2 separate regions of the Homo sapiens genome follow, and region 1 is linked to region 2. Evidence: fine-mapped expression QTL. Tissue or cell type: whole blood. Region 2 holds a variant in brackets; the other region holds the start of a gene. All regions are shown on one strand. Distances are between the middles of the regions.

Evidence for each region. PIP is the estimated chance that this variant, and not a neighbour inherited with it, causes the effect.
Region 1: MAP3K1 starts here. The variant in region 2 is fine-mapped to the expression of MAP3K1 in whole blood (INTERVAL, PIP above 0.99).

Annotation. Positions count from the first base shown.
Region 1 is chr5:56,812,477-56,820,583 of GRCh38, reverse strand. MAP3K1 (mitogen-activated protein kinase kinase kinase 1) reads right to left here and starts at 5,035. Exons shown (of 20, transcript NM_005921.2): 1 at 4,529-5,035. The coding sequence starts at 5,010. RefSeq lists silencers at 1-142, 3,938-4,177, 4,358-4,477, 4,548-5,317 and enhancers at 3,403-4,226, 5,678-5,807.
Region 2 is chr5:56,666,300-56,674,406 of GRCh38, reverse strand. No RefSeq gene overlaps it. Among named protein-coding and RNA genes, the nearest start is that of C5orf67, 64 kb to the right of the region's middle. RefSeq lists an enhancer at 3,912-3,961 and a silencer at 3,911-4,205. The variant A/TA (reference allele first, on the strand shown) is at 3,956.

The DNA of each region.
Region 1 (8,107 bases), 150 kb before region 2:
CATTCAACACTAATGACTAACCCTCTTTGGCTGACATGATAGGGTGATCCAAATACAGTTTACTTGTATTACATATACAAGGCCAGGTTACAGAAACATACCTATTATATACATTAACAGGCAAACTTAGCACAGGGTAGAGACCTAGCTCATGGTCTATTAGAATGCCTGCAAAACAAATTTCTCCTTAAAAATAATCAATTAATTTGATTATTAATTTGAAAAAAGAAAATGGAAGAAGCAGAGTAGTGGAAAGAAATGGACTGTGGAGTCAGTCTGACTTGGGATTGAATCCTAGCTGTCTTCTAGTTGTGTAATCATGAGGTTTTACCATCTCAGATGAGTTTGCACCTACAGAAAACAGAAATTACACTATCTTAGGGGGCTGCAGTGATGATCAAATGAGATTATATATAAACATATATATAATACATATAATAGATATCATACACACACACAGAAGGCAAAAGAGTTGATTATGTAAAAGGTATCTAGGCATATCTATATGCTCAATGAGTATGTTTTAAGCCACAGATAAAATCCTAATATATTTTTGCAAACTGAAAAGAGTATCTGACTAATCTCATGCTTTGCAATGAACCATTTACTAATTCCGGCCCTGATTATTTCTTTCATGATTAAACATGTTCTTAAATAATTTCTTAAAGACAACTTTGGGTTACTCCTAATCTTACACATTTCCTCACATTAATAGTCTACCATTTACATGTTTAAGTTGCTTTAGCTTTTAACTTAGGATATAGAAAGAGGCAAGGACTAAGGAAAACAACCAAGTCTATACTTGATATATTTGATAGAAGCAAAGAATTCCAAGATTAGAGGTGTAATATACACGCAGTTCCTAAGCAGCCTCTAGAGACTACTACTTTTCCATGACACATTTTCCCATCGCCTTCTGTGTAACAGACAGCCCTCAACCCAAGAAGATGACTGGAGTACAAAATGCAAAAGAGGTGCTTTCTACCTGAGAGCATTTCTGAATGCCCCATATTTTTCCTCATGGTAATCCATTCCCCATTAACTACCTTGCCACCCCCTCATTTCTTCCTTTGGGATGCACACAGCCAGTGTCAAGGACTGATTAGCCGACTCAGCCTAGGCAAGCTGTAGCTGGTTTTTTTTTTGCTCTTGTTGAAAGCAAAAAAACACTCCTTTCTTCCCACATTTTGAAATCTGCAAGTTGACAAGTCAGTGGCCATTTCTAAAATATGCAACATATTATGCTCGAGGTGCTATGGAAGTTGTAAATGAATATCAATGAACAGGGCTACTTCCTGTTTTTCGTATCTAACAAAATGGAGTTTTAGTGCATTGGAAATCGTATATTAAGGAATGTTGGTTAACCAGTCACTCTTGCCAAAATCAGATATGAAAAGAAAATAAAAGTTGGCAACAATTCTAGCTCTTATATTTCTCTTCCAGAATTATATTAAGGTTCATCTTTGAAGAATGCATTAATTTTCTTATCTGATTTAAAATGAAACTGACACCATTCTTAACTAAAAACTTACAAATTCACGGAAGACTAACTTATGTGACTACCTTTATTTTTATAAAGTCACCCACTTAATATTTTAAGAGTAATTTTTAGGTAATAATGCTCTTATACCTCCTCTTTAGTAAAAGGTCACTAAATCATATTTTTAGCCTAATAGCTTTAAAAAGGAAGTGAAATCTGAGGGCTATATGAGGATATAAAAGCAGCCTGTGAAATACCTTTAGTTTTAAACAAAAACTAACATTAACAAGTACAGCATATCTTGTTCTTTCACGGGGCCAGCAAATTGATAGTTTGGTTTTTTAAGTTACAAAAATAGGATGGGGTAATTATATCTACCAAACTCACAATAGGCTGTTCAATGGAGAGTAACACTGTAATTTTTCTTCAAAGACAGTAAATAGGAAGAAAAAGCCCCTAAATTCTGTAATATAAGGAAAAATTCCAAACCCTTGGGCGCCACTTACAGGCACTTTCACTGATTTCAGCTATCACCCTGAAAAAGAGGGACAAACTTAAAATCTTCTATTTAAATACGAGTATTATTTATTTATATAAATTCTAATTCAAAGTATATTTTCTACATTCAAAGATCAGAAGGAAATTCTAAAATTAAAAAAAAGATCACAGAACTCTCAAATATTTCAAAATCTTAGATTTTCCTCTTGGAAGTATGAATGTAACTTAACTGTCAAAAAAAAGTAAAACATAAAGTTCAATTGATATTTTATTGAGTTGGCTATAATTAAGGGTTTTTTTTCCTAAAACTTTAAATGGTAAGTAATAGTGTAGCATAACCAACATGCAATACAAAATATACACACTCAAATAAGATACAAGCCCTTTCCCCACAAAGTTTTATACGAACAGATTCAAATGAATTTCAACCCAATTGTTAAGAAAAAAAAATTCACTATATTTCATAAGGTTAGGGAATCAACATTTTACTATAAATGAAATCTTTACGTATGACATTTGGGATAAACCAACAGCATTCTGACTCGTAAAAATAATTTCTTTAAAAAAGATTATCCTTACAAGCCCATTATTTTCTTATACTGTGCAATTATAATCTACACCTTAAGCAAAGGGGAAAAAACCTCGGTTACAAAACGCAAATACTAAGCATGGATTACTTAGTCCCTAAATTCTATCTGCCTCCACCTTAGTCCTCTTATTTTGTGTCAAGAGACAACATTAAACAATTTCAGTACATTATTTTTACAGTGGATGCTCTTCTACTATATTCACAGCTCATTAAGAGTACTAGAATGCTGACGTTTGCTAAATTATTTATTGTATCCAAAAAGTTAGGTCTCAATAGATACAATTTCTTAAATTTGGGGTTAAAAATTTTTATCTGGAATTCATTTAAAGTAGAAGTTGCCTTCAAAGAATTATTCCAGTTAAGTTTTAATACAATCTGCACAGAAATGGGAAAACTATAGAGGTACATAACTCTTGTAAGAATAAATTACATGTACAAGTGCACACAAAACTGTATCAGTCACAAATCTCCTTTGGTCTCAGTAGTGCCATGGTACAGTGCGAAGCATATTTTTTAGTTCTTGGGGAGAGGAAGGGGACTTCCAAATACTAAATGGATCGTGATTTTAAGCAAATAATCAAATGCACAAAAAATGCCAGATCACTTTAGATAATGAATCCAAACCAAGGACTCCTACTGTCAAATTCGTCTCACAAAATGACACGCTTTCTTCTCATAATAAAGGTCAGGGAATTCTACAGGGCCACGAGGGACTATCACAAAAACATTTCCAGCAACTCAAAATACCCATCAAGACTTTGTACTTTGCATACGTTAATCAGGTTTTTAAAAAACAAACAAACAAGGATGTAGCTGTCACACTTAAAAGAATTTCCTTTAACATAAAAATTTCCAGTAGCCAAAAATGGGCGAGGCCAATAAACCGCTGGTCTAAATTACCTTACACATACTGTACTTCATATGCACCAGAAGACGCATCTGAGCCGAAGCCCACCGCACTGCGGCCCCTGGAATTCAGCGGGCGGCCCGCGCCAGGGCACCGAGCAGGAAGCACTGCACCCGCGCCGCAGTCCCCGGGCCAAGCCGGAGGGGCTGCGGGGAGCAGTCACCACTGCTTTGAAACTGAATGGCTGACACATCCGGTCCTGGCTCTTACACCACTCCGCCAAATGCAAACTTCAAAGGCCAAATTCAAACTCCAAACAGAAGTCACTCAAGTGACTTAGCAGTGCAGTTCGCATTCCCAGGAACACTCAAAGCCCCTTGGGGGCTGCAATTAGACAAACCGCACTTCCTAAAAGACTGCAAGCCTCCGCGAGTGTGCAGCCTCCCGCCGCACGGCTTTGACAGGCGTTACCGAGCCGTCCTCCTGGAGCCCTGCGGCCGGCGCTGGGGGCGCGCCGCCTGCGTCCGGGCCCAGCCCGCGGTATCTGCCTAGGGACTCGAGTCCCGGGCGGGCCGAGGGGCTCTGCCTGTCACGGCCGCTGGGACCTGCTACTTTCTCTTCGGTCCTCTCAGTCTCCCACCCGACCTCGGGCTTCTCACCCACCCCGCCCCTCTTCCGACCACCGCCCGCCTCAGGCTCGGGCCTCGCCCCCCAGTGCCTTTGCCCCGGGGACACCCGTCCGGGGGCGCCGCCGCAGGGCCGTGCCCCGCCCCCGGGCTCCTCGGAGAGCCCCGATTCCAGGAGTCCCACAAAGCCAGCCGTGGCCCCCTACACCTTTTCGCAACGGTTCCCCGCAGAGAGGCTCGCACGCCTGTCACATGTCTGCAAACAATAACAAACTCTTCCGCACGTCCCCGTCCGGTCCCCCAGGCTGGGTCCGGGGCGCCGCCCGACTCCGAAGGGGTCGGGGGGTGCTCAGGGGCGTAGGTCCCGGCGAGCGGCGCGTAGCCTCGCTGCGCTGAACCCCGGGACGCCGTGCATGGTGCCCGGGGTTCATTCATTGCCCTCTGCCCGCTCTCCAAGTCCCCGCCGCGACCCCGGCCGTGCTGCTCACCCGGCGGGGGCCGCTGCAGGAGACGGCTCGGCGGCGGGCGCCCGCTTCTCCCCGGGCTCGGCCGCTGCGGGACTCGAGGCGCCGCTGTCCGGCGCCGCCACCGACTCGGTAAGGTGGGCGCCGCCGCGGCTCGCGGCTCCGTGGGGCGGCGGCACCGCCACAGGCTGGAAGCCGGTCCCACTCCCCGCTGCGTCCGCGGGCTCCGGCGACGGGGAAGTCGAGGAGGCCGGCGGTGAGGCGGCAAGGAAGAGCGGCTGCTCAGGCAGCTGGTCCAGCTCCACACTCCGCACTTTGCGCAGCTGCCGCCGCCGCCAGTCCGCCCGCTCGCGGCCCCCGCTGCCCGCCTCCCGCAGCAGTCCCGCGGCAGCCGCGGGCGCGCTGCTCGCCTTGAGGGCTCCTCCGCCGCCGCCTGCCTCAGGGCTCGTAGCCCTGGCGCCCGGGAATCCCGACGACGAGGCGCGATTCCCCGCCGCCGCCGCCATTTTCTCTCGCGGGCTACATTCGCTCGGCCCCTGCGAGGGAGGGAGGGGGCGGGGAGAGCGCAGGGGGCGGGCACTGCGCCGCCAGCGTAAGGCCTCCTGCGCCAACTGCGTGAGCGCGGCCCGCCGGGCGCCTGGCCTGGACTGACCGACGGGCGGGCGCACTGGGTCCGGCCTGCGGCAGAGGTGTGGGTGGAGGGCGGCCCGGCGGCCGCAGGTGGGAGGGAGTGGGCTGTGCTCTCCGCCGGGCGAGAGGGCGGGCGGGCGAGGTGGACTGGGAGGCGGAGGGGGCGGGGGCGGAGGCGGAGGCGTGGGCTCCCGGGACTCTGCGCGCTGCACGCGCCGCGCCGCCAGGTAGTCCCGGCCGCACCGGCGACAGGAGGAGCCTTGGCGGCAGCGCTGCGCCGCTTCCTCTCGGCAATCTCGGCCCGGCACCGCGGAGCTCGCGGGAGGGGAGTTGCACCTTCCGAAAGAAAGAATTAGTTCCAACTTGGGTTTCTGGTGCTTGAAGGGGACGCAGGCGAGAGGGTTTACAGTCTGTCATTCCCACTGCCCTTTGCAGTGGGCGTCGGGGGACCCGGGCGTGGACCAGCCTCCCACCGACGCGCAGGTGGCGCCCGGGACCGTCGCCTGCTGCAAAGCGAAAGCAAGTCAACGTTCAGCAGACAGGCTGCCGCGGACCAGAAAAATAAAGTTTTGTTTGTGTTTTCTTTTGAAAAGAAAACATTCCTTCTCTATTGTCCCACCCCTGTCCCTGTGCTACAGATAACAAAACTTCAAAGTTTTCTGTAATACCTTACATCCTGAAGCTGCTGATTTGGGACAACTACCCCCTACCCTCACCAAGTCCCCACAGCCTCTGAGAAACCGTTGGGGCGAGGAAGGGAGGCGGGTGTCCCCGTCGATCTTTAGTTTTTCCTTGGCTGTCTTTGGGAAAGGCAGTCCCGTACAGAACCACATATAGCGCGTTTGGGGAGGGGACCAGCGCTGTGCCAGGAAGTGCTCGGTAATGTCACCCTCGGCCAGGTCCCGGCCCTCCCCGAATCCGATGCTTCTCGCCGCACGTCCTTCTTCCCTGCAGGGTCGGGCCACCGGCCGGGTTCCCTCTGTCCCCACTCCTGCAGGGCCTGGCTGCCCATCGCTGCGTTGTGAGTCCTCCTAGTCCCTGGACTCTACGTGAGAAGGTGCTTTGGGATGGAAAAAGCAACATTTACACGTTAATGATTTTTGACCTTTTGTCAACTGAGGAGAACTTCTGTGTTGCGTTTATTTCTTCCTTCCTTTCCTTTCCTCCAGCTGGTTTGTTTAGGATGGGGAATCTCCCAAAACCCAGGAGGAACGTCTATAGATTTACTTTGTGAAACATGATTAAGGAGGGGGGAGGTTGGGGTGGGGGGGTGCGGATTCTCACGGAGATAGTCTTGTCAGTCTTCACATATTTAGACAAAAGCCTGAACTATTTACAGAATAATTCCATTGACTTCTGGAGACTAGGTAAAATGAAAGCCCCTTTCCCAGATACAATGTTAACTGCGTAACCAGGTTAGATCAGAGGGGTTTTAAAAAGTCCAGATTTCATATTAGCTCAATGATTTGAAAACTGCTGTAACATCTCCCATAAGATAGTTTTAGATCGTTACACCCAACGGTACAAATTTTGAAAGTTCAGATAAATCTGTTAAAAATTAAGTCTACATTTAGGCTATAATTATATGCTATTTTAATGGCAGTCAAATGTATCATTCAAACCAAACAGTGGTTATTTCTCAGGTCTTCCTGGGTTGCCACACCCACCAAATCCTAAACTGAAACGGATAAACTTTCCTTGTTCCTATTTTGATCTAAAGACTTTTACATTTGCACGCACATATTCAGGTACCTGTAAGTGAGAAAAGTAAGTGGAAGACTTTAGCCAGAGTAGCAGAGTAAAAAGGAGATTCCAGCAAAACTGATTTTTGACTGTTTGTACAGTGGTTGAAACTGGGGATCAAAGGGAGAGGGCTACCCAGCGCAGCACTATGAACTAGCTACAATTCTCTCACTTCCTCCATCCACCACGTATTACCATGGAGAAACCTAAGTGTTGGTATTTTCCCACAGTTTTTGTTGCTTTGAGTCATTTTTTTCTTTGTTTACGTAAATATTCAGGTTGTCATTATGCATCTGCATATGGACACACTGATTTCTTAAAGAGAGAATCAAAGGACATGCTTAACTGAAAAGGGTGTTCTCCCTCTGCCATATGTTAATAGAAGTTTCTGAGTCTAATGCGTGATTAAGACTCTAGCTGGTTTTGGTGCTCTTCAGTCCTGCTATGTTACTGCAGAGAGGTGGATGTCAAATATCAAGTACTGTAGGCTCTGAATTCTCTTAATATGATTTATTTAATAACATTCAGGAGACTTGTATTTCTTCCAAGGTTGTTTCTAGACTGAAAGCTCCAATTCCTGTTTCCAAGCTCTTCATTTCCATCCTCACTGGGACGTAAACCTTGCAATGATTTCACGCATGCAATTTCATGGCAATTTCATGACCATTTCAATAACCTTAATACCAGTGCATTACAGATCACTGCCTCCACATAGTGCTTCTGGAAACTGCCTACATCACACTTCAGTTCCTGCAGCATATTCACGTTGAGGATCCACTTTGACACTGGGCATTTCCTCACTGTACATAAATATCACAAATATTAGAATGAGCAGACATAATATACATTGGGAGAAATATTTCAGCCTGTACATCATTCATCATATATTTAGTAAGCACCTACTGTGCATATGCAGGAATTTTTCTTCTCTGAGGATATTGTTTGTTGTTTTTCATTTCTACAAAAATGAATAAACAAAATATTCCAATCTACAGATATTTTTATTAGTGGGTATTTATCAGGCTGACTGGTAGAATTCCAGATCCATCAGTATGTGAATGTATTCACATATTCATGGCTGTTTGTGAGATCTATACCTCAGATAAACATAAAAGAATAATATAACCTTGAGAATAGGGTAAAAGCTGGTGTTCTTTCAAGCTTACAAATATTTATTATGGAATACTTGCAGGAGTGCTGGGGCTAGAATTTGGTTTCTGCATGTTCTTT
Region 2 (8,107 bases):
AGCCGGCACATCTTCCATGGCTGGAACCAGAGCAAGAAGGAGAGAGGGTGGGAAGTGCTACACACTTTTTTTTTTTTGAGACAGTTTCGCTCTTGTTGCCCAGGCTGGAGTGCAATGGCGCCATCTCGACTCACCTCAACCTCCGCCTCCCAGGTTCAAGCAATTCTCCTACTTCAGCCTCCCAAGTAGGTGAGATTACAGGCACCCATCACCATGCCTGGCTAATTTTGTATTTTTAGTAGAGATGGGGTTTCTCCATGTTGGTCAGGCTAGTCTCGAATTCCCAGCTTCAGGTGATCTGCCCGCCTCGGCCTCCCAAAGTGCTGGGATTACAAGCGTAAGCCACCGCGCCCGGCCGGTGCTCCACACTTTTAAACAACCAGATGTCATGATAACTCTACCACTATACAGTACCAAAGGGGGGATGGTACTAAACCATTCATGAGAACTCTGCTCCCATGATCCAATCACCTCACACCCAGCCCTACTTCCAACACTGGGGATTACAATTCAACGAGAGATGTGGGTGGGATCCAAACCATATCATTGCTCCAACCTAAAACCTTGAAAGTCATTCTTGGTTCTCTTTTCCTCATACTTCCAATCCATCAATAAATCCTGTCAGCTCTACCTCCAAGAATCTTACTACTTCTCACCACCTCCACTGCTACCACCACTGGTCCAAGCCACCATTATCCCTGGAGTCTTGTAGTAGCCAATAATAGATAGCTACAGTTGTTTCTCAATACACAGGCAAATTGATTCTTTTAAATGGAAATCAGATCATGTCACTCCTGGGTTCCACAGTTTTTAATGCCTTTCCACCTCACTTTGAGAAAAAGCTGAAGCCCCGGCAATGTCCTACAAAGCCCCACACAACTGGGCCTCAAGACAACATCTCCTTCCACTGTCTCCTCGCTCACTCTGCTCTGGTCACCCTGGCCTTCTCGCTGTTCCAAGAATATGCCACTCCTACTTCAGGCCTTTACTTTTGTTCCCCCTCTGCTTGGAAACGGCTTCCTCCAGATGTACACAACGCTTGCTTCCTCATTTCTTTCAAGTCTGTTTATCAGTGAGTCCATCTTATATATGACATTAGCAACCACCCTTCCTTACTGCTGCAGTCTGGTACCCACTCACCTACTTTCTCACTTTCTTTTTCCCCATGGCACATATCAATATCTGACATATTATGGCTATACTTGTTTATTGCTTGTCTGTTTCTTGCAGTAGATATGAGATCCAAGAGTGCAGAAACTTTGTTCCCTGCTGCGTCTCCATCACCTAGAAAGTACTGGACACATGGTAGGCATTCACATTTTGTCAGACTATTACGTGAATGAAATGAATGGCTCAACATAATCACTGCTAAGAACAAGAGCTCTTGCAAAGCCTCTGTAACCACAAGTAAAAATATTTGTGTTTACTAAAGTCTTTCAGTACCTTAATTTGTTTGCTTTGGTAAATAGAGTCAGAATTTAACATGGAAAAACTCTGAACTCTCCTAGTTGATTTCCTTGAGGCTGACCAGCTTGGAGTGGTTATAAAACACAGACAGGTATTTAAAATTGCCTGGATGTAGCCAGATGCAGTGGCTCATGCCTGTAATCCCAGCTCTTTGGGAGGCTGAGGCAGGCAGATCACTTGAGGTAAGGAGTTCTAGACCAGCCTGGCCAACATGGTGAAACCCTGTCTTTACTAAAAATACAAAAATTAGCTGGGCGTAGTGGTGCATGCCTGTAATCCCAGCTACTCAGGAGGCTGAGGCAGGAGAATCACTGGAACCCAGGAGGCAGAGGTTGCAGTAAGCTGAGGTTGTGCACTCCAGCCTGAGCGACAGAGGGAGACTCAGTGCCTGAATTTCTGTAAGGGATACTAATCTGGTTGGAAAGGAGATGTGGGTCTCTAAGCTGAATTAAGGTGGTTATTTGTATAAGAACATGAGAAAAACATCAACTGCTCATTTCAAAGAACGAAAGAGTGATAAAGGCTGCCGATAGGATTTGGACAGGGAAGGAAGGTACCGAAGCTGTCTTCCTCAGAAGCATAAACACATGGGAGTTAGTCCTACTAAGTAACAGTGTGGACTCGAAGTAGTCCCTGAAATTTCTTTGAACCTCAGTTTCCTCACCAGTGAACTGAGGGGCTTAGATATATTATTTATAAGGTCAATTCCAACCCTATTTTCTGGTGGTGAGATCAGGTCTCAGATTTATATTCTCAGACATAACTTTCATTAAATTGGAAATTTGAGATCCAGTTTCTTTTTCTGCAAAATGAAAAGTTTGACTAAAATGAACTCTAAGGTTTTTATTATTATTTTTTAACAGGTCTAATATTCTTTGTTTTCATTGTGTTTTTGGATTTTTTTTCTCTGCCCAATTGGCTCTGGTAAAATTTAACCTCTTCATTATGATTATTGGTTGCTTCTTTTGTTCGTTTCTTTGAAGTTGTGGTCACACACACACACACACACACACAAAATGTGAAGATATGTCACATACATTTGTAGATGCAGTGTGTGCTATCTTGCTGTTGGTGACCACTAACTTTGCCTTGAGACAGGGTGTGGAGCAGAGATACATCCTTGAGGTTTGTTTTATTCTCTAAACTTGACAGTGAGAGGACAGGAAATGGTCCATTGAGAAACTGGTGACCAAAAAATGCTGAAATTCTTCTTTAACCTCAGTTCCAGTCAATTCACATTGGAAACCGCAGTGCTTTTAAATTGCGCATTCCTAATTCTCTGATTTCTCACCCCTGTGGCTTGTTTTAGGGTCTCTAGGTGTATATTCAGTCAGCTGAACCACTCGAAGGGCCTGGTCACACCTGTGTCTTACCTTTGTGCCTCCATTTCTACAAGTACAAAGACATGGAGGAAACAGAAATTTTGCTACCTCCTTTCAGTGTTAAGTTTGAGATATCCTGATAAAAACCTTCAAAAAAGGGACTGAATGTTATTATTATTTTTTAAAGTAAAGACAAGAGGTTTATGTCCTACAGTTCTGGAGTCTGGGAAGTCCAAGGTTGAGGGTCCTGCATCTCTGAATGTGAATTTTTAACAAATGTGTTGGGGCTGGAGGGTTGGGGTGAGTTGGAATGGGGACAGAGCTCTTGAAAGATGCTTATTAAATCTGCAGTCCTTTCTAACAGACTTTTACAGGTAGGAACGCTTTCTTTGAGAAAGATGCACAGAGCTTGTCCTCTTCCCTTGAAAGCCATGGGCAATGAATGATAAAGTAGTTAGTCATCACAGAGCACTGGTGACTTAACTGCTCAAATCAATAAATATTCCCATTTCCATTGACTCATTTAATGGGAAAAGAAGGTCACATGTCAAGAAAGAGGGAGGGGATGGAAGAAAGGAGAGAATGAGTGAGACAGGAATTTTGAAATGTATTAGAACGTGTTTTTTTCTAACATTTTAGTATGAAGATTCCCAAATTACAGGAAAGTTGAAGGAATTAAACAGGGTATACCCATTTACTCACAACTTGGATCCTGCAATTAATATTTTGCTATAATTGCTTTATTACCTCTATTGATCCTCTCAAGAGTAGCAGTCTGTGAGTTTTGATGAAGGCTTACTTGTGTGACCCAGTCCTAACCGGATATAAAATATAACCTTCATCTCAGAAAATTCTTTCTTGCCCCTTCCCAGGTAATCCCTGCTCCTACCTCACAGCCAGAGGCAACCACTATTCTAATTTTTAAAACTGTAGATTAGTTTTGCCTATTTTTGAATTCCATGTTAATAATACCATACAGTATGAGCTCTTTTGTATGTGAAGCTTCTTTCATTTACCATAATATTTTTGAGATACAGTCAGGTTGCTGTGTGTAGCCATTTATTTTTTAAACCACAATAATCTCTATTCATTTTTAGAGAGTCTCAGGTTAAGAGTTTCTTCTAAAAGCAACAGGAAAAATAAGCTGTTGTTTTTTTTTTTTTTTT[A/TA]AGATAGGGGAGAGAGAGTTGAAAGGAACCTGAGTGAAAGGTACTTTGGCCTCTTAATTTTCATGATAAAGAAGTTGAGGCCCCGTCATTGCTCTGGGGCACGCAGACTGAGCTGAAACTGGAACCCAGGTCTCCTGATTCACGGCTTGAAAGGGTTAGGAAGGCAGCTGAGTAGGGTGGTTGTTTGAGCTGAAGCCATGTGAGAATAGAGAGTTTCGACAGAGCTTTGCTTTAGAGGATGTGAAACTACAGTAACCTCATGTGACAAAAAATCCTCCGAGGCCTTGGTATGGAGCCAGAGGAGGAAGTTTGACATGGCCTCTGGTTACCAGCTCCACCTCTGAACCCACTGGCCCAGGATGACTTATGGTGAGCTCTCTGATTTGCAATAAAACTAGACATGGGACAGAGAAAGCTTTTCTGCACCATGCACAAGGCAGGACAATGCTAAAGGAGGGGGGGGAAAAAAAAACAAGAAAGACACCTTCAGCCACATGGCCTTCCCATAGCAGGGGACCCAGAGCTGAAAATAAAACACCCAGGGAGGAAGGGATGCTGTGGTTACAGACAGAGCCTTTGTCTCCCAAGTGCATGTTCCAATTCAGCCCAGGATGACAATGACCTGGAGGTTCCTGCCTGCCAGCTGTTGGCTGGCCTTTGTGAAAGTCCCCGAGCTCCAGGCCAATGCTTAGCGGGCAGGTATCCATATCGTGAAGCCAATTGGCACTGCTGGTACCTTTGTTGATGATGTGAGCACAGCCACTGGGAACCAAGGCTGCTGGTGCACTCTTGCTACCAGCTGGCAGGTGCAAACCCATGGGCAGGTGCCCTGGGGAGAGACGGTTCATGCTGCCATGGTAACCGATAAAAAAAAGGAGGTTTCTTCAAGGTCAGTTTGCCCTTTTTTCTGCTAGAGGATATTGTGAGGAAGAAATGAATTTGTGGCAGCCCTGACTTGTGTGTAAATGTGTCCTTCATCTGTTTTGAATTGACACTTCTAATTGGATCTAATATTAGTGTCACCCACTGGGCAAATCTGGGTATTGGTGGGTCTCCTGGGCTATGTCATTGTGGACAAAGATCAAGTCACCAGAGAAGTCCCAGAAGAGACGTTCCAGTGTAAACCAAGCAGGATTGAACAAAGAATTCCAAAAGTGATTTTGAAAAGGCTGACAGTCAGGTTGGACAGGTTCTTCGGGCTATTCCAGGATGTGAAATTAATGCGGACTGTCTGAGGCGTGTCACCCTAGATGTCCTTTAGCCAAACTGTCCTAGGTGCAAGGAAGAAGGGACCCTTGTCAGCTTGCTTGGTGCCTCACGAGTTTGTCACAATGCATTCATTGTAAAGAAGCAAGCTTTCCTTATCATCATTGTCCTTCTCTCTGTAAACCTTCTGCTCATGCCTTTACCTTGGGCAAATACATTTTCTGGCTTTGATTTAAAAGTTCAGCTTCTTGATATTAATATTTCTGCGCTTCATTCTGATAAAAGTTGTTCTGACTCAGGTCATTGGCTTGGGTGTCAGTAATTTTCCCATTTAGCCTCTCTTGTGTGTTTTTCATATTCTGAGATTTCTGTTGGCAGAAATAACAGCATTGTATTAATTAATTAATTAGTAGCATTGTGTTATTGCAGGGGCTTCATGAACCCCTGGGAGAATTTTACTCTGTTCTGCTTACTGGGATGCTACCAAAATTATTTAGTACCCTGACAATCAGAAATATCATTTTTTTGGATAAACTCTAAGCAACTTGCCTGCAAGTATAACCATGGAGGTTGGCCTCAGCTTCCCAATGTACAAAATGAAAAGATTAGATTAAATGATGTCTTCAGGTACTTGCCAGCTGGTTTTCTAAGATGTTTGATTTTAACATAAAAAGAAAACCTGTGAATATATTCAACAAATAACAAATGGAATTTACAAAGCTCTGCACTGGATCCTTGTATGCAGTAAATATTTATAATTCATCTACCAAGTCTGGGTGCTGGGGCTATGGAAGCGGATACAGCATCATTTTCTATTCTGAAGGATCTCATAGCCTAATGAGGGAGGGGTCACAAGAAAAAAATTCTTCTCAAAATTGGCAGGAGTTTGAAGACAAAATTCTGCTTGGGAAAAGAACTTACCTTTTGGTTTGGAAGAGCTTCTAAACTGACATGTTTAATGTAGAAAGATAAGTCTTTTTCCCTGAGCCCCCTCAACTGGCAGGGCCATAACTAAGGTGATATTGAGTGAGGCACTTGCCTGGGATACAAAAAAAAAAAAAGGGGTCGAGGGGGATGTCAAAAAACTTCGTGGTTAAGATAAACTGCACTATAAAGTAGTCTTTTAAAAATCAAAATTAATGAAAACAAAATCCCTGATGAACAAAGGATGAAAATTTAAAATAAAGAGAGGATCTGATCCTGCATGTGTATATACCCTTTCCTCACTTTCCTCCCCCTAATCTTGGCCCTGGTTCTATTAAAATTTTATACAACTTGTAATTTGATTTTTAAAAGCATAGCATTAAAATATTAGAATATTTTAATATTAATATAATTGAATATTTTATATTAAAATATAAAATATCACAATAATATTAATTAGCATAATTAATTTTAATATTACTATTTATTAATATTAATTTTATTACAAATCTGGAGGCATCACATTACTGAACTTCAAACTGTACTATAAAGCCATTGTCACCAAGGGATGGGGGGGTGGCGAGGTATAACAGACTACACATAGGGTACAGTGTACACTGCTTGGGTGATGGGTGCACCAAAATCTCAGAAATCACCACTAAAGAACTTATTTGTGTAACCAAACACCCCTTTTCCCCCAAAAAACTATTGAAATGAAAAAGTTTTTAAAAAAGAACATTAAAAAAACTTGCCAATTTGATTTTAAAGACAATTGCATTAAAATAGTAAACTATTTTAATATTAATATTAATGTAATATTTTATATTGAAATATAAAATTTTATGCTAAAATATAAATATTAAAATAATAAAGTTTAGACAAAAAAAGAGTAGAACAGAATTTAGGGTTTTAGAAGGCTGTCAATAGAGGGAAAAAAGAAGTCTGTGGAAGGAGCCTGGGTTTCTAGAAGATGGTGGTACATAGCTGAGAAAGTCTTCATAGTGGAGAATGGTTTGTGAATATTTATGAAAGAGGTATCTAATAAGGGTTTTGAAGTTGTTCCTCACTCTGTGTTGCCTTTTATCCCCCTTTACCCACTATCCTTCAGTTAGAAATCTGATACATACAATAACCCTTGAATTTATGCTGAGTTGAGAAATAGGACGGAAGAAGGGTGTTGTCCAGCATGTCCAGGAAGTGGGCTAATGAGAGAGTAGGAAAGATGTAGAAACCAGGAAGGATGTAGCAAGGACCGCCTCAGGAGAAGGGAGAGGACTGCGTGGGTGGGTGGCTCTGGATATTCTGAAGTACAGAGGGTGCAGCCTTGAGCTCTAGTGTTTTGTAAAATTAAAGGGAATCTCTTAGGCAGCAGACACTTGGCATGCCTGCGAATCAATCACGACAGTACGTTGTTGTGGCCAGTCTTTGGTTTGTCCCTCCAAGGGAAAGGTCCACTTTCTTCCCTTGGAGGCTGCCCTGTATGGACCACAGGAAAGGGCTCCCTTGACCCTGGATTCCAGCTGGAGTTCCCTCCAGCACCAGCAGATAATTGGAAGGAGGGAGGAAGAGCCAAACTCAGGGCTTTTCCAGTGGCTCCTTTCCTGAGGGTTTGCTCCAGACTGGCTACATTCCTCTACTCAAGGTTGCAGTTCCTGTGAAGCATCCCTCTTCTTCTCCCTCCAAGCTCTGAGAACTACTTCTTCCTCTTACCTTTCCAGCCTAGGGATAGTAATAGAGCTCCTCTTAATTTGCCCAGCGGTATGTACTAACTTTTGTAGTCTCCTTATACTCTGCTTCTTTGTAAAGAGTCTCTGTTTTAAACACTCTTCAGTATGAGGTTTCTGAGACCTGACTCATACAGATGTGAGAAGGACTAAAAAAGGTTTGTACGAAGCATTATAGGCTGGAGGTGGAGAACGCGATCAGCTGCACAGTGGGAAGGGAACATGGGGTAGGGGCATGGAGGGTTACATGAGTGAGGTTTGAGCTGAATCATGTGCAAGGGGATATTTCCCTGGGATT